Regions from separate parts of the Homo sapiens genome. Here all the other regions are reported to be linked to region 2. Evidence: microRNA targets listed by miRTarBase, many of them from high-throughput screens and not tested one by one. Region 2 holds a microRNA gene; each other region holds the end of a gene's coding sequence.
The links. The annotated mature microRNA hsa-miR-193a-3p reads AACUGGCCUACAAAGUCCCAGU and lies in region 2 at 966-987, opposite strand. An mRNA with a match to its seed (bases 2 to 7 or 8) in the 3' UTR can be bound and repressed. Matches are read on the target gene's strand: a 7mer-m8 pairs with bases 2 to 8, a 7mer-A1 pairs with bases 2 to 7 and ends in A, and an 8mer does both.

Region 1 (3,000 bases), not on the chromosome of region 2:
AAAATTAGATTATTATGCCATACAGGAAAAATTCAAAATGGAATAAGTATGTATGTATTTGCTCCATCACAGTATTAGAAAAACATATGGGAAAATATTTTTAATAATTTCTAGTAGAGGACAGATTTACCTACTGCCAGGCATCATGTATTGCATGGGAAGACAAGAAGTACACACAGCAGCTAGTAAATATGTTGTGTAAGCCCCCAGAAAGAACTCCCTGAAAAGGGGCCAAATACATTCTCAAAAAAAGATTCTATCACAATTCACAATCCACACAAATATATAAATATGCTAACATTTGGCAGAGATCAGAGCAAAAAAAAAACATTCTTAATAAGATTAATAAGCTGAATATATTAAAAAAATAAAACTCTGTATTGCAAAAGACATAGAGTAACAAAAGATAAACGAGTAGGTAAAATGTTGACAAAACATAGGACACATTGTCACTTATCATTATGGTTCAAAATCTATACATCAAAAAGGAAAAGATACAATAGAAAAGCAGGCAAAGGACATAAGTTGCCAAGTGATTGTGAAAAATGCTTTAGTTCATTCAGTTTTTAAATGAAATTTTGTTTTTTGTTTTTTGTTTTTTTTTGAGATGGAGTTTCGCTCTGTTGCCCAGGCTGGAGTGCAGTGGCATGATCTCGGCTCACTGCAACCTCCGCCTCCTGGGTTCACGCCATTCTCCTGCCTCAGCCTCCAGAGTAGCTGGGACTACAGGCGCCCGCCACCACACCAGGCTAATTTCTTGTATTTTTAGTAGAGACAGGATTTCACCGTGTTAGCCAGGATGGTCTCGATCTCCTGACCTCGTGATCCACCCGCCTCGGCCTCCCAAAGTGCTGGGATTACAGGCGTGAGCCACCGCGCCCAGCCTAAATGAAATTTTAAATGAGATGTTTTAACCAATCAAAATTGATCATTCATTTGACTGGTGAGACTGTGGGAAACCAGGCCCTCTCAGGCACTGCTGTACAACGTTGCCAGATAGCAATCTGTCATACATTTCGGTAAGCAATTGGCTTGGAAATTCAAGTCACAGGAAGTGAGCCTACAGAAATACTTGCACCTAAAGGCAAAAGTGTTTGTAACAGCACTGTAATACTGTTAAGCTGAAAGCTATCTAAGTGTCCATGAATAAGGAGTGGTTAAATAAATTACAGTCCTTCCACACAATAGAATACTTCCACATCACTACTATACTAAAGAATGAGGTAGGTCAACACAGACTGACACTCAAAGATGTTCCATAATGTGTCATCAAGTGACTTACAAAACAATATATGGAATGATCTCAAGGTTCTTAAAATGATACAGTTTACATACACAGCTTAGAAGGATACACATGGGTCTTTCTTTTTTTTTTTGAGTCAGAGTCTTACTCTGTCACCCAGGCTGGAGCGCAGTGGCGTGATCTCAGCTCACTGCAACCTCTGCCTCCTGGGTTCAAGTGATTCTTCTGCCACAGCCTCCCAAGTAGCTGGGATTACAGGTGCATGCCACCATGACTGGCTAATTTTTGTATTTTTAGTAGAGATGGGGTTTCACCATGTTGGCCAGACTGGTCTTGAACTCCTGACCTCAGGTGATCTGCCCACCTCAGCCTCCCAAAGTGCTGGGATTACAGGCATGAGCCACTGTGCCCAACCATGTGTCAATCTTTAGAAAGTGAAAATACAGGGCATTCCATTTTTAACCGTATGTGTGTTTTAAATTCTTTCCAAGCTTGTGTTACATCTATAATCAAAATGATTTTCAATTTCTTAAAAATAATAATCATTTGAGAAAACTGCCCCATTTATTATAAGAGCTATTTGTTCTCCTCTCAGTGCACCTGAGGACCTGCCCAGAGTCAAGAAGTCACATAGGTCTGCGTCACCCTGCAGTATGAGGTGACATCTCCTCTACTTAGAGTTCTAACTCTTGTTCAATTAAAATCCACAACGTGGCTGGGCGCAGTGGCTCATGCCTGTAATCCCAGCACTTTGGGAGGCTGAGGCGGGCAGATCACTTGAGACCAGGAGTTCGAAACCAGACTGGCCAACATGGTGAAACCCCATCTCTACTAAAATACAAAATATTAGCCAGGCATGGTGGCACACACCTGTGATCCCAGCTACTTGGGAGGCTGAGGCAAGGGAATCACTTGAACCCAGGAGGCGGAGGTTGTGGTGAGCCGAGATTGTGCCACTGCACTCCAGCCTGGGCAACAGAGCAAGACTCTGTCTCAAAAAAAAAAAATCCACAACATAAGGATAAGTTCCCCTAATGAAGGATTTTACCTACTGCCAGGTACTATTTGCTGCATGGGAAGACAAGAACATACAAGGCAGCTCATTGATACGTTATGTTAACCCCCAGAAGAAACTCCCTGAAATGGGAATCTCCAAAAGTGATCCCATCACAATTCACAATCCACATGAAAATATAAATATTCTAACATTGAACACTTAAATATTCACACTGGCCCTACCAACAAGATTCATGTGTCAGCTGCACACTGTCTTTACTGGCCACTGAAAAAGAAGGGGGCCAGTCCAGCCAGCTAGTCCCTGCTATTCACATGAAGTGATGTGGCCAACTGGCTCGAGAGCCCTGTGGCAATCCATTGGCCCTGGTGGCCCAGGAGTGATGGCACCTTCTTCATTCACCTCCAAGAAGGCATTGGTCTCTCTGGAAGAAGTCGATTTCCTCGTATGGCAGACTTCTGTGCAACCTGAGTTCTTTTTTCCATGTTTGTTCTTCAATCTCCTCTTGTACGTCTGATATGCTAGGTGTTAAAACATACAAGTATTAACAATCACTTTAACAAAGAGTCTAATTTGGTGACACTGTACACTTGTCAATCCTTCAGGTGTTTGTTTCAGTGGCATCATGTATGTATAAACACCCAGGGAAAAGAAGGGGGAAAGAGAGAAAGCTATAGAACAGAAGGATTCAGTGTATCAGAATGGCTCTTTTGTCTGGATGAACCATTTGTGATTGAGGCTC
Region 2 (3,160 bases):
TGGGAAAATGCCTCTTGAATGGGTTTTTACACGACCTGGCAAGGGGTGGGCCAACCTGGCCGTGATGGTTCCTCCCTCTCACCCTCCCTCCTCCCAGCTCCTAAAAACCTCTCCTGTTTTCCAAAGCCAAGTAAGACAGGGACCAGACGTTCCCTATTTTGTCAACCAGTTCTTCACACAGTTCAAGTCACCTCACTGCATGTCCCCAGATGTTTTTCCACGGCCAAGAGCCAAAAACACAACACAAACAAAGGACAAATAACCAAAGTTCCAACACCAGGCAAACCCGAGGTTTCAGGGGTTGGTGGGTTTTTGTTTTCGGGGAGTAGAAGCAAACGCACTAGAGGAATAGATAAGAGACTTTAAAGGAGAGTTTAAGGAATTCCAGCAAAAAACTTGAAGAGGACTAGAGTGGGTCCACATTATGTTGCATCGGTCAGGGAACAAAAGACCGGCCATTGGGAACACATCCACAAAGATCCATCTTTAATGAAATGGTGTTTGGGAGAGGAACAGGGGCTTCCTGCGCCACCGGGCCAAACCTCCGCTTCCCACCTCCCCAGGGGCAATTCTAGAAGTCAGGCCCCGTTCTCCCCACCCCCAAGCTCAAGGTTGCCGCCCTGGAAAGCACAGCAGGGCAGGCCTCGGTAAGTGGCAGGGCTTGGCCCATGGGTAAGCCGGGTCCCGTCTGTCCACTCAACCCAGGTCGCCGGGGCGCGGTCCACGTCTGCCCAAAGGGTACGGACCCCAAGCAGTGACCGACTCACACTTCCGAGAGCGTCGCTATTTCTCCAGCGAAGTGCGGGGATTTCCCGAATCACCGCACGCAGCCGGGGCGAGCGCACCTCACCACTCCTTCTCCAGCGTGGACCTGAGAGGCAGCCTGGCCGGAGCGCACGCCAGCCCGGGAGGAAGCCGGCCTGGGGCGAGGACCGGGGAGAAGACGCTGGTCCCGGGGGCCGAGAACTGGGACTTTGTAGGCCAGTTGATCCGACACCCTCATCTCGCCCGCAAAGACCCAGCCCTCAGCTCCCATCCTCGGAGTTCGGGGTGCGTCCCCGACGGGCTTCCCGGGGCTGGGTCCGGTCGCCGGCTCTGTGCACCGCGCTCCGCTCCGCCGAAGCTCTGGGTGTCCCTCAGGCGGCGTTCCCCGGGAAAGTCCACCGCCCCGCCCGACCTCGGGTCGCGGGCTCCAAACCCAGCCCTCCAAGGGTTACACGACGCTCGGCGGCCTCCACGCCACCCCCGGGCCGCCTCGGCTCAGGCCGAGGGACAGCGCTGGGGGAGGGGGAGGTGCGGGGACCAAAGCCTCCCCACCGCAGCCCCACTCCCGAGTGGGGCGCAAGAGTTATGCGCCGAGAAACTTCGCCACGCTCCCACGCCGCGCCTGCGAGGCCCAGCTCCGCTCTGCCTCGGTTACCTGCGCTCAGCTCGGCGGGCGAGGGGCGCGGGGCGCGGGGCAGGAGCCGTGGCCGACCTCTCGCAGCAGGCCGCACCCTCCCGCAAGGCCGAGCCCGCACCGCTGCCTGGGCACGGGGGCCATAGCCGCTAGCCGGGGCCCGCGCCCCGACGTTCCGGGAGCCCCTCGAACTCCTGGCCGGGGGCCGTGGCCTCGCTCGACCTGCCCGGGACCTGGGGGCCGCCGCCGCCCCCTCCGCTAGGAGAGCGAGCCCGACGAAGCCGGGAGAGGAGCGGGGCGGCGAGACCCCTCGAAAGTTGGGGGGGTCGGCTTGCTCGCCGCGGCCCGACCTGGCTCCACGTGCTGGTGACACATCAGGAAGGCTGCGCGCCCCGCGGCTCCCGGCGGGCGGACGCGGCCAGCGCCCGCCCGCACCGCCTCCCGGAGCCGAGCGGACGGCGCCCCGCCCCGGCCCGCCCTTCGCCCGCCCCTAGGCGGCACCGCCCCCGGCCGCGACGCCCGCTCCAGCCTGCGGCACCGGCGGGAGAGACCCTGACGGCGGTGGGGGGTGGCCCGGGTTCCCAGGTCCCGGGTGGCCCGCACTGCCCCGGGGATGGGGTCCCGACGCGGGCGGCCCTACTCGACAGTCTGGAGTGCCTTCCTCCCAGTCACGCAGTCCTTCCCGCCCCGGAGCCCAGTAATTTTCCCTTTTCCTCCTTTGACCCGTCCGAGCAGCTGCCAGCGCTTCCTCCCGCGGAGACCGGCGCGGGGAGCCCCCTGCCGGCCGCTCCGCTCCCGGGCCGCGCCCCCGCCCGGTGGAGCGCGCCTGCCGCCGGCCTCAACTTCCCCATCTAGAACCTGGAGCCGCCGGGCACTTCTGGCAGGGCTTTGGTGGCAAAGATTATAAATTAAAGTGCCAAGCATAGTACCGGGCAGCATACTTTCTTGAGATGTTAAAATTTCGTGCTTTCAACTCCCAGTTCCAGCGGCCTGCAGACAACCTCTCTTCCTGGCTGTGCTGTTTGAAAAGCTGAGTTCCTTTAGGGAGACTGTGGAAAAGGAGTGGGACAGAAAAGCTTTGAGGCTGAGTAAGAGCTGTCCCAAGATTAGCGAGGGGTGGGAGGTCAGTGGAATCCCCTTGGTGGAGACCTGCTGCCCCACTGTCTCTCCGGAGACGCCAGGATGTGGGAGAGTAACTGCGTGTCTCCTCTGGGACCTGAACCAGGCCTCTACCAAGATCCCCAGCCTCAAGATGGCCAGGATTCCAGGCACCGTGGGTGATGGGGAAGCCCAAATAACCACTGAGGTTGAGTTTCCCAACCTCTTCAGGTCGAGATTTGGAGCCATTTAAAGAAAATAACGTGACATATCTGTTTGTGTCCCGACATAGATATTAGCTATGTTCCTGCCTTCTCTTTCCTGGCCTCACCAACCCAGATCATGCCTTTAAATCTCACTATGAGGCTGGGCACGGTGGCGCACACCTGTAATCCCAGCACTTTGGGAGGCCAAGGCAGGATTGCTTGAGCCCAGGAGTTTGAGACCAGCCTGGGAACATAGTGAGACTCTGTCTTTACAAAAAGTTAAAAAAAAAAAAAAAATTAGCTGGGCGTGGTGGCACACACCTGAGGTGGGAGGATCGCTGAAGCCCAGGAGTTAGAGGCTACAGTGAATTATGATCGCACCACGGCACTCCAGCCTGCGTGACAGAGGGAGACCCTGTCTCTAAACTTCACTTTGGTAAGGGTTGAGTGGTATATC
Region 3 (3,000 bases), not on the chromosome of region 2:
AAGGATGGCAGTTCCGTGCACTCTACCACTGCGTCGGCGCGGCGAAACAGCAGCAGCCCAGTCTCGCCGGCCTCCGTGCCGGGGCAGCGCCGCTTGGCATCACGTAACGGGGACCTGAATTTACAGGTGGCGCCCCCGCCGCCTAGCGCCCACCCGGGCATGGACCAAGTGCACCCCCAAAACATTCCGGATTCCCCCATGGCCAACAGCGGACCCCTCTGCTGCACCATTTGCCACGAACGTTTGGAGGATACGCATTTCGTTCAGTGCCCTTCCGTCCCCAGCCACAAATTTTGCTTCCCTTGCTCTAGAGAGAGTATCAAGGCCCAGGGGGCCACCGGCGAGGTGTATTGCCCCAGCGGAGAGAAATGCCCCCTAGTCGGGTCGAATGTACCTTGGGCCTTCATGCAGGGCGAAATCGCGACTATCTTAGCTGGGGATGTTAAAGTGAAAAAGGAGAGAGACCCTTGAACCACTGGGCAGCCACCTCCTTTGCCCTAGACCAGCTCCTCTCCAATCCTGAGGGCCCCTCCCCCAACCCAACTCGACCCTCCCTCCCCTCACCCCCAAGGTGTAGAATTGTGAATATAACGAAACTGCAAAAAGTTAGTCTTATGTATAGACATTATTTTCGTCGTATGTTTCTATATTTTGAAACAAAGGTATGTAACTTCTTCATTTGAAGGATAAGCTGGTTTGTGTTAAGCAGTATAGTATTGGTTGGGTCATTTGCATCATATCGTTAGCATTTATTTGGTGGCAGAATGTTTGCCTAGGTACAGAATTAATAGCCCTTAGCAACGACTGCTGCTGGTGTGTATTTTTGTAAATGTTATGCACTCTCTGAAAGGAAAAACACACACAAAAGAAAAAGACTTTTTTTTTTTTTTTTTTTTTTTTGCCAAGGCCAGTGTTGCTGCCTAAAAAAAAAAAAAAAAAAAAAAAAAAAAAAAAAAAATGCTATAAAATGGTGAAAGCTTCCTTCTAAACTGCCCCAAGTGTTGAAGTCTTCACTTTATTTTGTTGTTTTGTTTTGTTTTTCTGTTTTGTTTGCAAAATGGTAAGGGGGTGTCGGGGGGGATGGGGTGTATTTTGTTGCAAGTTTGTGAGGGGAAAATGTTTTGGTTTGTTTCTACTGACCTGAATGTGTTGGATCTACACGTGTTGTTTTGTTTTTGCTTTATTGATGCACGGATGCTTTTGAACAGTAGAGCGAAATGCTAGACATGGAGAATCTGCTCTGTTTGTCCTTTATACATTTCTGTAGTTAACAGAACACTGTAATGTGCCTTGGAGCTTAGTAACTTGTAATAAATTCAATTGATATTAACTGCGCTGAGTCAGCAATTTTGTCTTTCTAGGGCTAAGGCCATGCAACTCCGACGTAGGCGACACCCTCCCTACCTCCAGTATAGAACGAAAATCCTAGTGCTTTTGAAAGCCCTGGGAGCTGGCCTGTGGGAAAGGCCCTGTGCTGCCTTGCTGCCCCTCCCCCTCGGTACCAGGCTATTTAAATTCACCTCTTGGGGAGGCGACAGTTGCTGACTAAGCGATTTCGGTTTACTCTTCAGCATCTCTATTTTCCCCCGGATGCGGGCCCAGCTGCAAATGGCATTGTCAAGAATGCTTTCTGGTGCCTCGCCCTGTGGCGGTGAACATAGGCTGACACCCAGTGCAGCTGGTGACTTGACAAGTGGGCGAAAAAGTCTAGGAGAAAAGCTAGGATGCTTTGCTTCTTAGATATGACAGACATCAGTCTGCATATTTAAAACAAAACTGCCACAGAGCTGGGAGCAAATGCATACACTCAGCCTTGGAGAGTCCGCAGTAGCTTCAGGCTGGTTCCTTGGAAAACCAGTTTTCACCTCATTCATTACAAGTTTTCTTTCTTGTATTTTAAATAATTATTTTTAAAGGCAGAAATAATTCTAAAGACTTAGTTGATTAGAGAGGGTTTCTGAGGATGAGGAAGAGGGGGGGAAACCCCAAACTTAGTTCCTGAAGCAAAGGTTTACTTCCAACATCAAATAAAAATCCATTCCTGCTGGTGAAGCAATGCAATTATTCATCTAATCAGCTTTTGGCGGCGTTTGTGAGGTGCAGAGAGGCGGGGAAGCGGAGAGAAGACTACTGCCCTTTAGAGCAGAGCCCCTGCTCGTGGGCTGAGAGCAGCCTGGAGTCCTCCCAGTGGTAGGGGAAGGCAAACAAACCTGATCTGAACCTTGTACTTTCCTGGGAGGCAAATAGAAGAGCAGAAAACAGGAGGGAGGAAGCAAAACAAAACCCGGCAATCCAGTCAAATTGATTCCTGGCCACATCTCATTCCTGGGCGGGGCGAGCTGGGCCCTGTTGGTCCCCTCCAAGGCTGAAGGACTATTAAGAAACTTGGATCCCCCACTCCACTCCCATCAAAGGAGTGGGAAGACTGGGAGGTGGGGATGGGTACAGGCACGTTTGGGGAGAAACAAATCACTGGTTCGCCCAGAACTCTGGTGTGGAGGCCGGGCTGGTGTCGGAACTTGTTAATAACACCCTTTTAGTTTCTTTTCCTGCTTTGCCACTGCCATCACTGAAGTGGTGGAAACCAGGACTCTGTGTGCACGCGCACTCGCGTGTGTGTGTGTGGGTGTGGATAAGTGGCAATATTGATGGATCTGCTGCAGCCTCTTAATCCTGGTACATGGGAGGTGCCTGCCTCACCTCTAAGAATCTCCCCACATATAAATAGATATTCATGTCAGCTTCCTGCAAATGTGTCCTTGCATTTTCATCTGCTGCCAAGTGTTGTATTGGTGCTTATGAGTCATGAAACCTATTTTCATCCGCAGGGGTAATTAACTTGGGGGTGATAATGCATAGCAGACTGTAGGAAGAGTTAATTCCAAAACCCATCCTCGCCTGGCTACCAATCACACATTGCACTTAAAGGTCTGGGTTGGCTTTTTGTGTAAGTTCATTAATAAAAACCAAGCATGTTTTGCCTGGAAGATCCTCTAAGAT

Region 1: miRTarBase lists SLC10A6 as a target of hsa-miR-193a-3p. Seed matches in the 3' UTR shown: 8mer at 2,517-2,524 and 7mer-m8 at 2,472-2,478.
Region 3: miRTarBase lists IRF2BPL as a target of hsa-miR-193a-3p. Seed matches in the 3' UTR shown: 7mer-m8 at 906-912.

Annotation. Positions count from the first base shown.
Region 1 is chr4:86,821,124-86,824,123 of GRCh38, forward strand. SLC10A6 (solute carrier family 10 member 6) reads right to left here. Exons shown (of 6, transcript NM_197965.3): 6 at 2,345-2,779. The coding sequence ends at 2,565. Among named protein-coding and RNA genes, the nearest start is that of SLC10A6, 27 kb to the right of the region's middle.
Region 2 is chr17:31,557,877-31,561,036 of GRCh38, reverse strand. MIR193A (microRNA 193a) reads right to left here and starts at 1,041; the gene lies at 954-1,041. RefSeq lists an enhancer at 1,238-2,028 and a silencer at 1,770-2,259.
Region 3 is chr14:77,022,873-77,025,872 of GRCh38, reverse strand. It overlaps IRF2BPL (interferon regulatory factor 2 binding protein like), which reads left to right. Exons shown (of 1, transcript NM_024496.4): 1 at 1-1,330. The coding sequence ends at 471. Among named protein-coding and RNA genes, the nearest start is that of IRF2BPL, 4.3 kb to the left of the region's middle. RefSeq lists a silencer at 1,601-1,826 and an enhancer at 2,033-2,327.